Linked DNA regions of Homo sapiens: regions 1 and 2 are each reported to be linked to region 3. The links are microRNA targets in miRTarBase. Many come from high-throughput screens and were not tested one by one. Region 3 holds a microRNA gene; each other region holds the end of a gene's coding sequence.
Evidence for each region. Region 3 holds the annotated microRNA hsa-miR-3198 (GUGGAGUCCUGGGGAAUGGAGA, at 2,191-2,212, shown strand). A microRNA usually pairs through its seed, bases 2 to 8, with sites in the 3' UTR of a target mRNA and lowers its output. Matches are read on the target gene's strand: a 7mer-m8 pairs with bases 2 to 8, a 7mer-A1 pairs with bases 2 to 7 and ends in A, and an 8mer does both.

Region 1: the mRNA of SLC25A5 is a reported target of hsa-miR-3198. The part of its 3' UTR that is shown has no 7-base or 8-base seed match.
Region 2: the mRNA of ELMOD1 is a reported target of hsa-miR-3198. Seed matches in the 3' UTR shown: 7mer-m8 at 1,199-1,205.

What each region holds. Positions count from the first base shown.
Region 1 is chrX:119,470,562-119,474,914 of GRCh38, reverse strand. SLC25A5 (solute carrier family 25 member 5) reads right to left here. Exons shown (of 4, transcript NM_001152.5): 4 at 3,519-4,014. The coding sequence ends at 3,857. Among named protein-coding and RNA genes, the nearest start is that of SLC25A5-AS1, 3.6 kb to the right of the region's middle.
Region 2 is chr11:107,664,752-107,668,751 of GRCh38, forward strand. It overlaps ELMOD1 (ELMO domain containing 1), which reads left to right. Exons shown (of 12, transcript NM_018712.4): 12 at 274-2,028. The coding sequence ends at 446. Among named protein-coding and RNA genes, the nearest start is that of SLN, 45 kb to the right of the region's middle.
Region 3 is chr12:54,229,266-54,233,618 of GRCh38, reverse strand. MIR3198-2 (microRNA 3198-2) reads left to right here and starts at 2,143; the gene lies at 2,143-2,222. CBX5 (chromobox 5) reads left to right here. Exons shown (of 5, transcript NM_012117.3): 5 at 1-2,677.

The sequences.
Region 1 (4,353 bases), not on the chromosome of region 3:
TGACGGTTTAAATGACTTACCATTCACGAAAACTGCCGCTCTGGGAAGACACCCCTCGTTTCTTTCTCCGGCGGTCCGGAGCGCCCGTAGCGCGCTGCTTCCAGTCACTGAGTGCAGAGGGCCCTTGGAATAGGAAGCACGGCTGTGCACAAGCTGACCTGTGTTCTGGCTCTCTCACCTGGAATCAGGCTTCACGGATCCTGTTATGTATTGAATAGTAACAAAACAACGGCATAAATTAGGGTGTTGCTAAGATTGTGTACCATCAACGTTCGCATGAGCGTAATGGACATAATGAATTCTATAGCACTATCCTGCACAGCTTGGAGAGATTAAAACCACTTTGTCTTTAAATTAAATTTCAAAAATCATTGAACAAGAATAGAAAGAACAACAACAAAAAAAACCCCCACCTCATCTATGTCAGCTACCCAATTGCAGGAGGCACCACTTCTTGCTTTCTGATCATTAATGCCTGGTCCTAGGTTTATTTTAATAGCTGCCAGCTCAGTGAGTCCACATCTATTGTAATAACCATAAAGGGGGCTTGGCTCCTCTTGCATCGTGTATGCAGCCCTTACTGGAGAGCCTCTTATCCCCTTTCAAGAATAAAATCTACAACTGAAAAAGAACTAACCTGAAGTTTATTTTGTATAAATGCTACACAATATAGTATATCTAGTCTGTTGCAGAAAAAGAAAGGTGAGCTTGAATTCATTCTTAAGCAGTGCTGTACTTGGGCAAATCTTCACTCAACAAACCTGGGTGCCGTATTATGTGAAAGTTCACATCGGAGTGCTTGCTAAATGCCAGGCACCATACTTCTGGCTCTACATGCTTTCTTATGCTTAACCCTCACTCACAACACCCCTAAGAAATATATGAGCAGTCCAGGAGAGGTGGCTCACGCCTGTAATCCCAGCACTTTGGGAGGCCAAGGCAGGCAGATCACCTGAGGTCAGGAGTTTGAGACCAGCCTGGCTAACATGACGAAAACCCATCTCTACTAAAAATACAAAAATTAACCAGGTATGGTGGTGCATGCCTGTAATCCCAGCTACTTGGGAGGCTGAGGCAGGAGAATTGCTTGAACCTGGGAGGCGGAGGTTGCAGTGAGCCGAGCTCGCACCACTGCATTCCAGCTGTTAAAGATTTCATAGTCTTTAACAGCACTGCAATCTCAGCACTATGTAACTGTACCAGCTCTAATCCTCTACTCTGAATGGGCGACAGAGTGAGACTCCGTGTCAAAAAAAAAAAAAAAAAAAAAAGGAAGGAAAGAAATATATAAGCGCTATTATATCCCCACTTCACAGACGAGGAAACTGAGGCTCCCGGGGATTAAGTGACTTGCCCAAAGTCACACAGTAATCAGCAGAGCCAGGATTAAAATCCAGGTATGTCTGATTGATTCTAGAGCCCCTGAAATCTGCCTCCTAAGAACTGTCAGTCACCATTTATGTAATGCTTATTATGTTCTATGGTAGATGCTTGGCATAAATTATTTAATCTTTGCAACAACCCTCTGAGGCAGGCATTATTAATAGCCTCATTTTACAGATAAGGAAAACCAAGGTTTAGAAAAATTAAGTAACTTGGCCTAACACAACTGAACATCAGAGTCCAGAACTTCAGCCCAGGCCTCTTTGATACCAGAACAGAATTCTTAATAACTAAGCTATACTACGATTCAGGTGCCTGGCCAGAGGACAAACATAAACTCTGGGATCCTTGGGCATTCATCCATGCCATGCAGACCTCTCTGTGAATAGCTCTTATACATGCCAGTGTGTGGGATATTCCTCAAGAATGAGCTTTACATGTACACATGGAGCACCCGTTCTATCATTTTTAAAGTTGTGGCTTGACAGACATAATGCTGCATTCTTAGTACAAATCTCATGGCAAAATCCACTGGATTTGAGCCCTAATCAAGAGATACAGAAAGTCCAAACACTGTCACATGGATTCCAAATAAGGGTTTATTGAAAATAAACATAAATGCCCTCCATTGACTGGGCTTATTAGCATGAAGCAAAAGGCAGATGCTATTTCCTCTTTGTAAGGTTAGTTTTGAGGTCGTGGCCAATGTCTGGCCCTCTTCATAATCTTTAACAGCACTGCAATCTCAGCACTATGTAACTGTGCCAGCTCTAATCCTCTACTCTGAATGGAATTAAAAATGGCTTGAGGCCAGGCGTGGTGACTCACATCTGTAATCTCAGTACTTTGGGAGGCCGAAATGGGCAGATCATGAGGTTAGGAGTTCGAGACCAGCCTGGCCAACATGGTGAAACCCCGTCTCTACTAAAAATACAAAAATTAGCCCGGCATGGTGAGAGGCGCCTGTAATCCCAGTTACTCAAAAGGCTGAGGCAGAATCGCTTGAAACTGGAAGGGGGAGGTTGCAGTGAGCCAAGATTGTGTCATTGCACTCCAGCCTGGGCGAAAGAGAGAAACTCCATCTCGGCCAGGCACGGTGGCTCACGCCTGTAATCCCAGCACTTTGGGAGGCCAAGGCAGGCAGATCACAACGTCAGATCAAGATCATCCTGGCTAACACGGTGAAACCCCGTCTCTACTAAAAATACAAAAAATATTAGCCGGGCGTGGTGGCGGGCACCCGTAGTCCCAGCTACTCGGGAGGCTGAGGCAGGAGAATGGCGTGAACCTGGGAGGCGGAGGTTGCAGTGAGCCGAGATCGTGCCACTGCACTCCAGCCTGGGCAACAGAGCAAGACTCTGTCTCAAAAAAAAAAAAAAAAAAAAAAAGAGAAACTCCATCTCAAAAGATAGATAATAAATAAATAAATTTTAAAAAATTGCTCTAGCTGGCCAGGCACAGTGGCTCACGCCTATAATCCTAGCACTTTGGGAGGCCGAGGTGGGTGGATCATGAGGTCAAGAGATCTAGACCATCCTGGCCAACATGGTGAAACTGTCTCTACTAAAAATACAAAAATTAGCCAGGCTTGGTGGTACACACCTGTAGTCCCAGCTACTTGGGAGGCTGAAGCAGGAGAATCGCTTGAACCCAGGAGGCGGAGGCTGCAGTGAGCCAAGATTGCACCATTGCACTCCAGCCTGGCAACAGAGCAAGACTCTTGTCTCAAAAAAAAAAAAAAAAAAAAAAAAAAAATGGCTTGAGCCAGGTGAAAATGAAGGCAACTGGATGAAATTGGTATTGATTCTAAAAGTTTAAATGAGGTGATATTCATGCAACAAACGTAACCATTTTAAAGTGGATAATTCAGCTCATGGCTCATGATTAATAACCATAGGACTAGAGAAGGTGGGTTCACAGTATTTCTTGGAGAAAGCTCATTCAGCTATGATCATCCATAGGCAATGGAACAATGTTTTTTGGATGCACTGGGCCTGAATTCCTTTGCTAATGTGTTGGAAATGTTTGTGGGTGGCACAACCAAGTTATTCTGTTAAGCGGACTGCTGACAATTGGTTTTAAAAAGACAGTTCTTCATCTCCGGAGATACTGTAGCATTTATTAAAAATGTAGCATTCACTAAAAAGGTAGTATTTATTCGAATGTAGCACTCAAATATGCATTTTTATATGAAAATATACTGCAGACAAAATTTATTTTAGATATTTTTATTTCTCCAAATTTGTTATTTATCAGGAGTGACTGAAATAAAAAATACAATTGAGTCCCATCATCATCATCATGGAAATGGCTTTAAGAGAAAACTGGTCAGATGAATATTATTGCTTCCCATTTTCAACCAGTAAATAGTTGCCACTGAGAAACTGACAGCCAGGAGTCTGTCAAGAATGCTCAAGATATGTTATATAATACAACATGCCTGTTCACAGGGGGAAAAATCCTAGGAAATAACTTATGTGTACTTCTTGATTTCATCATACAAGACAAGCACAAAAGCACCACCCATGCCTCTGAGAACATTGGACCATGCACCCTTGAAAAAAGCTTTGCCTCCTTCATCACGAGCAATCTTCCGCCAGCAGTCAAGCGTGCCTGTGTACATGATGTCAGCTGCAAAGAATAAAGACATGGAGTTAGTGACTGAAGGCCGATGAAAAATCCTAAGATTCACTAGGCTAAATAAAGCAGAGCCCCACCTCTAAGAACGTCAGCTTTAAATCCAACATTCACACATTAGCATGGGCAACACTGAAATATTAATGCTATGACCACAGGAATACAGACTACCCATTGGTCTTAACCTCTAACACCATTTAAGCACCCTCATTCATAGGCATCTGAAGGGCCAGCTCAAAGGCAGTTGTGGAACAGACACAGATGCTATCAACCCCATCCCTTGACTTGGACAGACAGCCATTTTAAAGGTATGTATCACCAGTTTGTGGCAGC
Region 2 (4,000 bases), not on the chromosome of region 3:
AAGAGATGGCAGAACTGATTTGTCTTCCTGCTTGGGAAGAGTGAGAATGATTCCAGGGCCAATTGCAAAAAGCTTGCAGATTGGTAGGCTTCAACTGCACTGATTTTAAAGAATAATCTTAAACAGTGGTATTTTCTAGATTTTGAGGTCTTCTTTGAGCTCCACGGTTGCTGTGGCTTGGTTCAGCATCTTCCTCAGCATTCAGAATGATTTTGAATGTGATTAAGGATTTTTTTTTCTCCTGCATTCTTATCATTGTATTGTCTCCAACAGGCTATTTGATGCATGAATTTCATAAGTTTTGGATCGAAGAGGACCCCATGGACATAATGGAATTTAATCGTGTGAGGGAGAAATTCCGCAAGAGGATCATCAAACAGCTGCAGAACCCAGACATGGCGCTGTGCCCACATTTTGCTGCCTCGGAAGGTTTAATCAACATGTAGTTGCCCACGCCGGTTTTAATGGATACCCTGGAACACTGCCTCATTGTCTTGTTAGATCTCTGCTTAGGTCGCAGCTCACGCATTGAATGCACACAGTGATTGTATGCATGCCTTTTGGTACAGTGTTTTCATCTCTTGGTCATAATTCCGAGATCCCCAGAGACCACTGTTTCTGGAGTATCTGTCATCCAGTGACTGCTCATATTGTGGCATTATGCAGTGTTACATCTTGCCTTGATACCCAGGTATGGAGAGAGTTTTCTATTTTTTTAGACTTTTTTTCCTCTCCCTCATAATTCAGCATTAAAGAATTGTATTTCTCTAGCTGTATTTTGTATGTAAGAGGTTTAGCTGAATCTCATTCTGTGAAAGCCTTTTAATTTATTGAAATGTTTCATGACTACTGCTGCTAGCTCTTCAAGCCAGGTTCATGCTTGGACCTCATTCTGATAAAGTATAAGACTTTAAAATAATACAAAACAGGGCCGGGCGCAGTGGCTCACACCTGTAATCCCAGCACTTTGGGGAGCTGAGGCGGGCGGATCACGAGGTCAAGAGATCGAGACCATCCTGGCCAACATGGTGAAACCCCGTCTCTACTAAAAATAACAAAAATTAGCTGGGCGTGGTGGTGGGTGCCTGTAATCCCAGCTACTCGGGAGGCTGAGGCAGGAGAATCGCTTGAACCCGGGAGGTGGAGGTTACAGTGAGCCGAGATCATACCACTGCACTCCAGCCTGGCGACAGAGCAAGACTCCATCTCAAAAATAAATAAATAAATAAATAAATAAATAAATAAATAAATAAATAAATAAATAAAATAGTACAGACAGACACATGATAAGCCAAACTGTTCCTGCAAACATAGCTATGCTTCATGAGGCTTACAAGAAGTAACTTTAGGTAGGAGCTGTTTTTGTTTGAAGTACTGCAAAATTATATTGTAACTTCCCCTCACCCCAGTTGCAATTGTGTCATAGTCATCTGTATATCAAACTATTTTATTCCCATAACTTCATTGGCTTGGATGCCTAAGTGTATGATGCTTGAAGCCTCAGAAAAGAAATAAGCATATTTCAAAAGCTGCAAAAGGTTTTTCACTGCCTGCCTCTTGCGGAACTGGGTTACACCCTGGCACTGTTCTGATCCAAGCATATTTGCTTGGGGAACTAAGTGCTGACTAGTTTGTTTTCTATGTCAAGGGGCAATATTAAAAAACAATTTGCAAGAAAATGTGTTTCAAGAGAGCAACCTAAGCTAAGTCACTCTGCGATATTTCTTGAAAATAACGACCTTGTCTTGTATCAGTGGAAGAAGTAAGTTGCTTAGAAAGGGAAAAGTCAAATTGTTCCAGAACTGCTAAAAATCATTTTAAAAACCATGATTTAGTTTGGAATTATGATTGTAGTCTGTTGAATAGTATTTACCATGGCATTTCATACCCATGGTATTTTATACCTTCTGACTATCAATTTTAGTATTATTAGATGTTTGTGTAACCACTTGCTTATTTAAATGAATTTTGAGTACTGCCTAATTGTCAGTTATATGAATAAATTACATGTCATTCTACTGTAACGTATATTGGATTTCATATTAATATTTTTGTGCTCGTACAGCTTCTGAATATGCAAATATGTGAGTGAATGGAATGTCAAAGACAGACAACCTGGAGCTGACTATAAATCACACCATCATTCAGAGTCAGCAGGTTCACAACTTCCTAGGAAACCTGGCTTGGCTGTTGCTAGATAAAGCAGAAACATTAACTACCCATTGTTTTCTTGGCCTTTCTCTCCCTTCTGCGTTTGTATTATCCTTTCCTTCTGCGTTTGTATTATCCTTTCCCTTTCAGCCATGTACCAGGTGGCAGCATTTTGCATTGCCTTTCTTATGGTCCTGTGTCCCTTCTTAGAATGCGGAAGGGAAAGAGTTGATTAGCACATGGTGGATACCATGAGTAATGACAAGAATGTATATTCCTCTCTCAAGTAGGGGAGAACTTGTCAACCTAGTTCCTCAGGCCTGCCTGAGGAGCCCTGAATTTCCACCGTAGCTGCAGCTGCTGTAGATGAAGGCATTATTCCACATGCAGTCCAGCCTTTGCAGCCACATGTGCTCATTGTCTCTTTTTATCCATTGTGGTCCCATGTCACTGTCACGGCTTGACAGCATGTGGCACTTACACCAGCTTGCGTCTCTTCTGTTCAGATAGAGATAGTTGACGCCAACAAAGCTAAGAGTTTCCCCTCTCAGCTCCTAGGATGCTTTCTTTCTATTGTATTTGAACATGGCTGCACAATCTTAGGATGAACAAGCTGTGACGGCTCCTTTGAGCTCTGAGTATTATTAGATTTCTCATTCACACCACTTTGTGGAAGATGCATTCCACCCAGTCACACAAAGTGAGGTGAGAAAAAGAAGAGGAGAGGTTTCAAAAGCATCAACAACATGTGGAGTGTGTGTGTGTGTGTGTGTGTGTGTTTCCCTTGAATATTTTTAGCTTATACTTTTCCATTGAATAAGGGTTGACCACATAAAATGTCAATTGTGCGGCAAGCCTCTTCCAAGTCTTCCAAAGCACTACTTGCTATGATAAAAACACATTCCTGTTTGCACTACAGAAAGAAAACCTTCTGAAGCACTGTTTCTGAAACTTGACTCTGACCTTCCTTCTCACGGTTCTTGTTATTGTACTGTGCTGAAAAACTTTTGCCTGGTAACCCACCATCTTTTCCATATTTGAAAAGAGGCTTAAATATATGCCAATCCCAAAAGACAGGGTGACCTTACAATATATCTTCCAAAACAGAACACTGTTGAGAGAGAAAGGGGATGTTGTTAATGGTTTCTTTAGAACAACAGAGTAAACTGGGACAGTTTAAGAAAACTGAGATGTTAGGTGGCCAAGAGAGACCAAGAGACAGACATAAGGATTGTCCACCCACAACTTAATTAGGCAAATATAGCCCAATTTCTTTACTTTCAAGCCTCTGGCAGGAGAAGTACATCATACAGATATAGACATTTTGATATCCAGGATACTACCCAAAATCTTAGAGACCCATCACAAGCATGGGCTTGGTTTGAGCTGAGAAATTCAGCTGCATAGATGGGGCCTAAGTTGGCAATAGGCAATCAAACTCCATGGCAACAAATTATCTTGATCCGTAAACATATGGTGCCAGATCCAAATTGAAGGGGAGTGAGGAGGGGACCAGAGTTGGTGGAATATGAGGATAGGAGATGGCAGATGATGGAGAGAAGAGGAAGGGGGCAGAGAAAAAGGAAAATATCAGCTAGACCCATAGCCACTAAGCCTTCTGACACAGACTCTATTAAAGCAATGCCTCTAACTCTTCAGGGAGCTCAACAACGGTAGCTGCTCTAATCTAGAGAAAAAAATGACAGAAAAGCAGAACCAAGTATAACATGAAGTCCTAGAAGATGAAAGAGATTCTGGTACAGATTCCATTTCAAGAGCTCACATTTACCAGGTTTTTATGCCATGTGCCAGGACGGTGCTAGTCCTTACCTTGCATTATTTCATTTCC
Region 3 (4,353 bases):
AAATCATCTTTTGAGTTTCTGTTGTATGTGGGGACTTCCTACACTGGCTGCTGTGAAGAGGTATGGAAGAAAGGAGAGGCTTTCTGCCTAGAAATTCTTTGAGAACACCTGAAAAGACAGTTTAATCATGTCACAACACTCTTAAGGCTCAAGTCAGTGTTCTGGTTTCCGGTAGCTTTAGGATTGGATTCTAAACGAGGGCTGGTGGTGAGTTTGGTGTTTGTCTCGTGTCACCCTCACCCCTCACCTCCTCAGTTTAGGATAAGAGACATAATGATTTCTACCAGAATCCAAAGTAAATCCAAAGGGGGAGAAAAGACATAACTGTTTTTTCTTCTACCTTTTTTTTGTTAAAGAGTTACATCTCTCACAGGAGGAAAGAATTCAAGAGTCTATATGATTAGTTACAGAGAATATTTTCATCCCCTCTCCCTGAATAGAAAAGCAGGGGTCACCATTTGTATCCTTACCCTTGAGGTGTTTTTGAAGATGCTGTAACTCTTGAAGTTGAGCTGAGGCAGAAAGGTTGGAAAAATGCAGCCCTCTGGGTATTGTGGGGAGGGATGTGATGTAGTAAGAGGGTGTTTTGTGGTGCTAGGATTCCCACGCCACCAACTTGCAGCTTTATAAGAGCGCTACCAAGAACCACCACTGGGGAAAAGGTTCTTATTCATTGTTTCTGTTGGAATGTGATCTTGCTTTCTGGATTTTAGGAATTCAGGTTACTCAGTATAAAACTCTGAGAAATCAGTGTGACTTAGTCCTTCACCTCCTAAGATAAAGTGAATATTTCTTTACAAAATAATTCATGTCCTTAATGTTAAAGATGTAATTTTATTTTCAAAACATCTATAACATGACTTTCAGAAGCAGTTCATTTTTCCAAGATTCCTCACATTATACTAGATAAATAATAGGCCCTCAGTTAATACCCTTCAGTTATTGAATTAATCTAGTTTGTGGAATGAGGTGTATCCTGCCAACTTCCCTCTGCTCCCAAGTACACTCTGAGAGGTAAAATGCTCTGGGAAATGGAACAAGAATCGAGTGGATGCTGACTCTGTGTGCCCACCTCCTCAACTGATTGATAATGGTTGACCTTGGGCAAGTCACTTCTTTCAATGCCTCAGTTCCCCATCTGTCAAATGGGGTTAATAATACTGACCTACCTCACAGGGGTGTTGTTGTGAGGCATTGTAAATCAAAGTTAATAGAATACTTCAGGGTCCTCTGTGGAGGATGTCTTGAGCCAGAGTTTAAGCCTGACACACAGGCTTTGGTCCTCACTGAGCTGTCTCCAAGACTGGAACTACTTAGTGACTCGGCAAATTTTCTGCCCCCCACCCCTCATCAAAGCTGCTAGTTCAGATGTTGACAGTGTTTTCATGAATGTTGGAATCTTACTAGTCCAGACTTACTTAGGATGTTGTTGGGGAAGGCACTTGGGATTTTCTGTGTCTTGCATTCACAGAGGGAGGCCATTTCAGATTCAAGAGCATTGGATTAGGGAATCGTGAGGCAGGGATGCTACTGCGTATTTCTCTCTGCAGGTTGGGGATTAAAGTTCCTTTCCCCATGGGTTTGAAGCAGACTCAGACTGTCTCAGGATCAAAGCAACCCTCAATGGTTTTGATTTATGTCATTGCTTACCACTCCCCAACCAATCCCAGGACAGCTGGGTCACTGTACCCCTTTGTGGTATCTGTACCTGGGCCTCTCCTTCCTCATAGGGACCAGCTGATTGAATAAATGTGACCACCTTATTTCCACCCCCCACCCCCAAAAGCTACATTGGAATTATTTTTCCTAGAAATGTGTATAACACTCAGAATTGGGCATTGATCCTTAAAGCTTCATCCCATTCACCGTATTCAACATCTGTCATCTCTTAGTGTCTGCAGTCTGAACCTAACCTTGACCTTTTTTCCCTCTGGTTTGAGAAAACTTTGGACACTATTTCTACTTGGCCAGGTGTGGGCTCAAGAGCCTTACTCTTTCCATCTCAGTTTAGGGGCGCAGCCAGCTCCTCTTCCCAATAGGGCTCTTTCTGCTTTCCCTCTCCTTGGCCCTAGATTTGTAATCCATGAAAAAGCACAAGGTCCTGGCTCCTTGCGGTCACATTCTGGTTCTCTGTGTTTTGTGGACTCTGCTCTCACTGTTCACCCAGCACTAGCAGTACCAGATGGTTCTGTGGAGTCCTGGGGAATGGAGAGAGCACAGTCTGACTCCCTGCCAAGTAGCCAGGAGTTGACTTGCCCATGGTCCGCTGGCTTTCCCACCACTTCCTACAGGATGGGATCTAAGAGACTCAAGAGCTGGGTTTCTTTCAGCACTCTGTACTGTCCCAAATAGCAAACAAATCACTTTGTAGCCAGATTTCTGAATGGAAATGAGAAATTGAATTCTCCATGGACTTTTAGGTTTATGGGGGAGTTTTAGCTGTGTTTCTTGGTTTTATTTCAGCCAAACATGTCTGCTTTTGATTTTTTTTTTAAAGTATAAGTGGTCTATATATATGTTCACCTTTTAAATGTAAATGTTTAAAAAGTAAGCATTTATGTGTTTCCATAACTGACATCTGATGCAGACCTCATTCTCTCCCCCTCTTCTACCCTCCTCTTTTCCCCCTTTTCATACTCTTGTATTGGTTCTAATAAATGGTTGCTTTTCAAATATGGATTCTGAGTGGTGGTTTAAAGATCTGGGTCTTATGCCCCTTCTTTAATTTGGGCCCTGGAGTGTCAGCTCAATTTCTGAAAGAGCAACAAGACTTGGAGAACATGGGCTTCTTTTCTAAGGATTATTGGTCTCTGACTTTCTGCAAATAACCACAGGTTGGCGCAAGCCTGAGGAAATAAGATAATGCGTATCCTGTTTCCTACTCTTATTTCCTTAACTGGTTCAGTGTGTACCTTTCCTGGTTTCCATGCTCTTCTCTGCTCCTAATGGTTCAGAGAATAAATATTAGGCTTCAGCAACCTAGGGATCCCTGGAAGAGTCATCTCATGGCTATTAGAACTTATGGAATACCACATCAAGCAAATGCAGTCTAAATCAGGTTTGAAAATATGTGAATTTGTAAACTTTGTATTTTATCTTTCTGATTTGCTTCACAAATACCAAAGAAACTTCTCTGAGGATGGAAGGCTTGCAGGTCAGGAACATGGTGTGAGGTCAGTTGGAAGTTAGGAGGAGGAAAGTATGTGGATAATCAAGAAATTATCGAATAATATAAGCCTGATGTAGCCCTGAATCTAATGGAGATAGGCAGAAACTCACAGAAGAGAGAAGTGAGGAAGATGAAGGGGTCACCAAACCCAGATATCCTCCCACTGATATGTGAGGCCTCTGGAGCGGAGCACTTGTTTCTACCATCTCTTACCTGCAATTCTCCCCTCTTGTTTTCCTTTCTTGCTGAGTTATAGGGTCTCCCCAGTCTAATCTCGTAAAGTCTTATGAAGACATCTGTAGGTTGGCTGGCTTAATGGTCCATGACCTCATAAACATGGGACAGGAGAGCCATTTGGTCCACTTCAGAGCCAGACCCTTCTGGACATTATTTATTTCCTACCATGGAAGCCTGAGACTGCTTGCCCTCTTCCCTTTCGATCTCTTTCTTGCTCTCTAAACATCATGTCACTTTGTCTCTGTCTCAGGCCCACTGGAAAGCACAACTCCAGGGTTTTGACACCCACGCTTGTATTCCTAAACTATGTCTTGGTTTTTGTTTCCCTCAGTGAGGGGCTGTGCCTGCATGGCGTTCATTCAGATGACCTCATCATTGCTCATAGCTCTCCTCCCAGGAATCTTGCCTCAGTGTGCTGGAGAAGTCAGGAACTGGGCAATTTTGCCTCTCCTTTTGTCTTCATTAAAGAGCTTCAGAGCTTGTGAAATCAGTGCAGCACTGGCAGCCTGGGGAAAATGGAGGATCACTGTGTGGGAATCCCCTTCATTGGATCACTGAGCACACAGTTCTATGTTTTTCTTTTTTTTTTTTTTTGAAATGGAGTCTCGCTCTTTTGCCAAGGCTGGAGTGCAGTGGCGTAATCTTGGCTTACTGCAACCTCTGCCTCCCAGGTTCAAGCGATTCTCCTGCCTCAACCTCCCGAGTAGCTGGGACTACAGGCGCCCACCACCACACCTGGCTAATTTTTGTTTTGTTTTGTTTGAGACAGAGTCTTGCTCTTGTTGCGTAGGCTGGAGTGCAATGGCATGATCTCAACTCACTGCAACCTCCGCCTCCCGGGTGCAAGCGATTCTCCTCTCTCAGCCTCCTGAGTAGCTAGGATTACAGGCGTGAGCCACTGTGCCCAGCCTAATTTTTTTTTTTTTTTTTTTTTTTTTTTAGTAGAG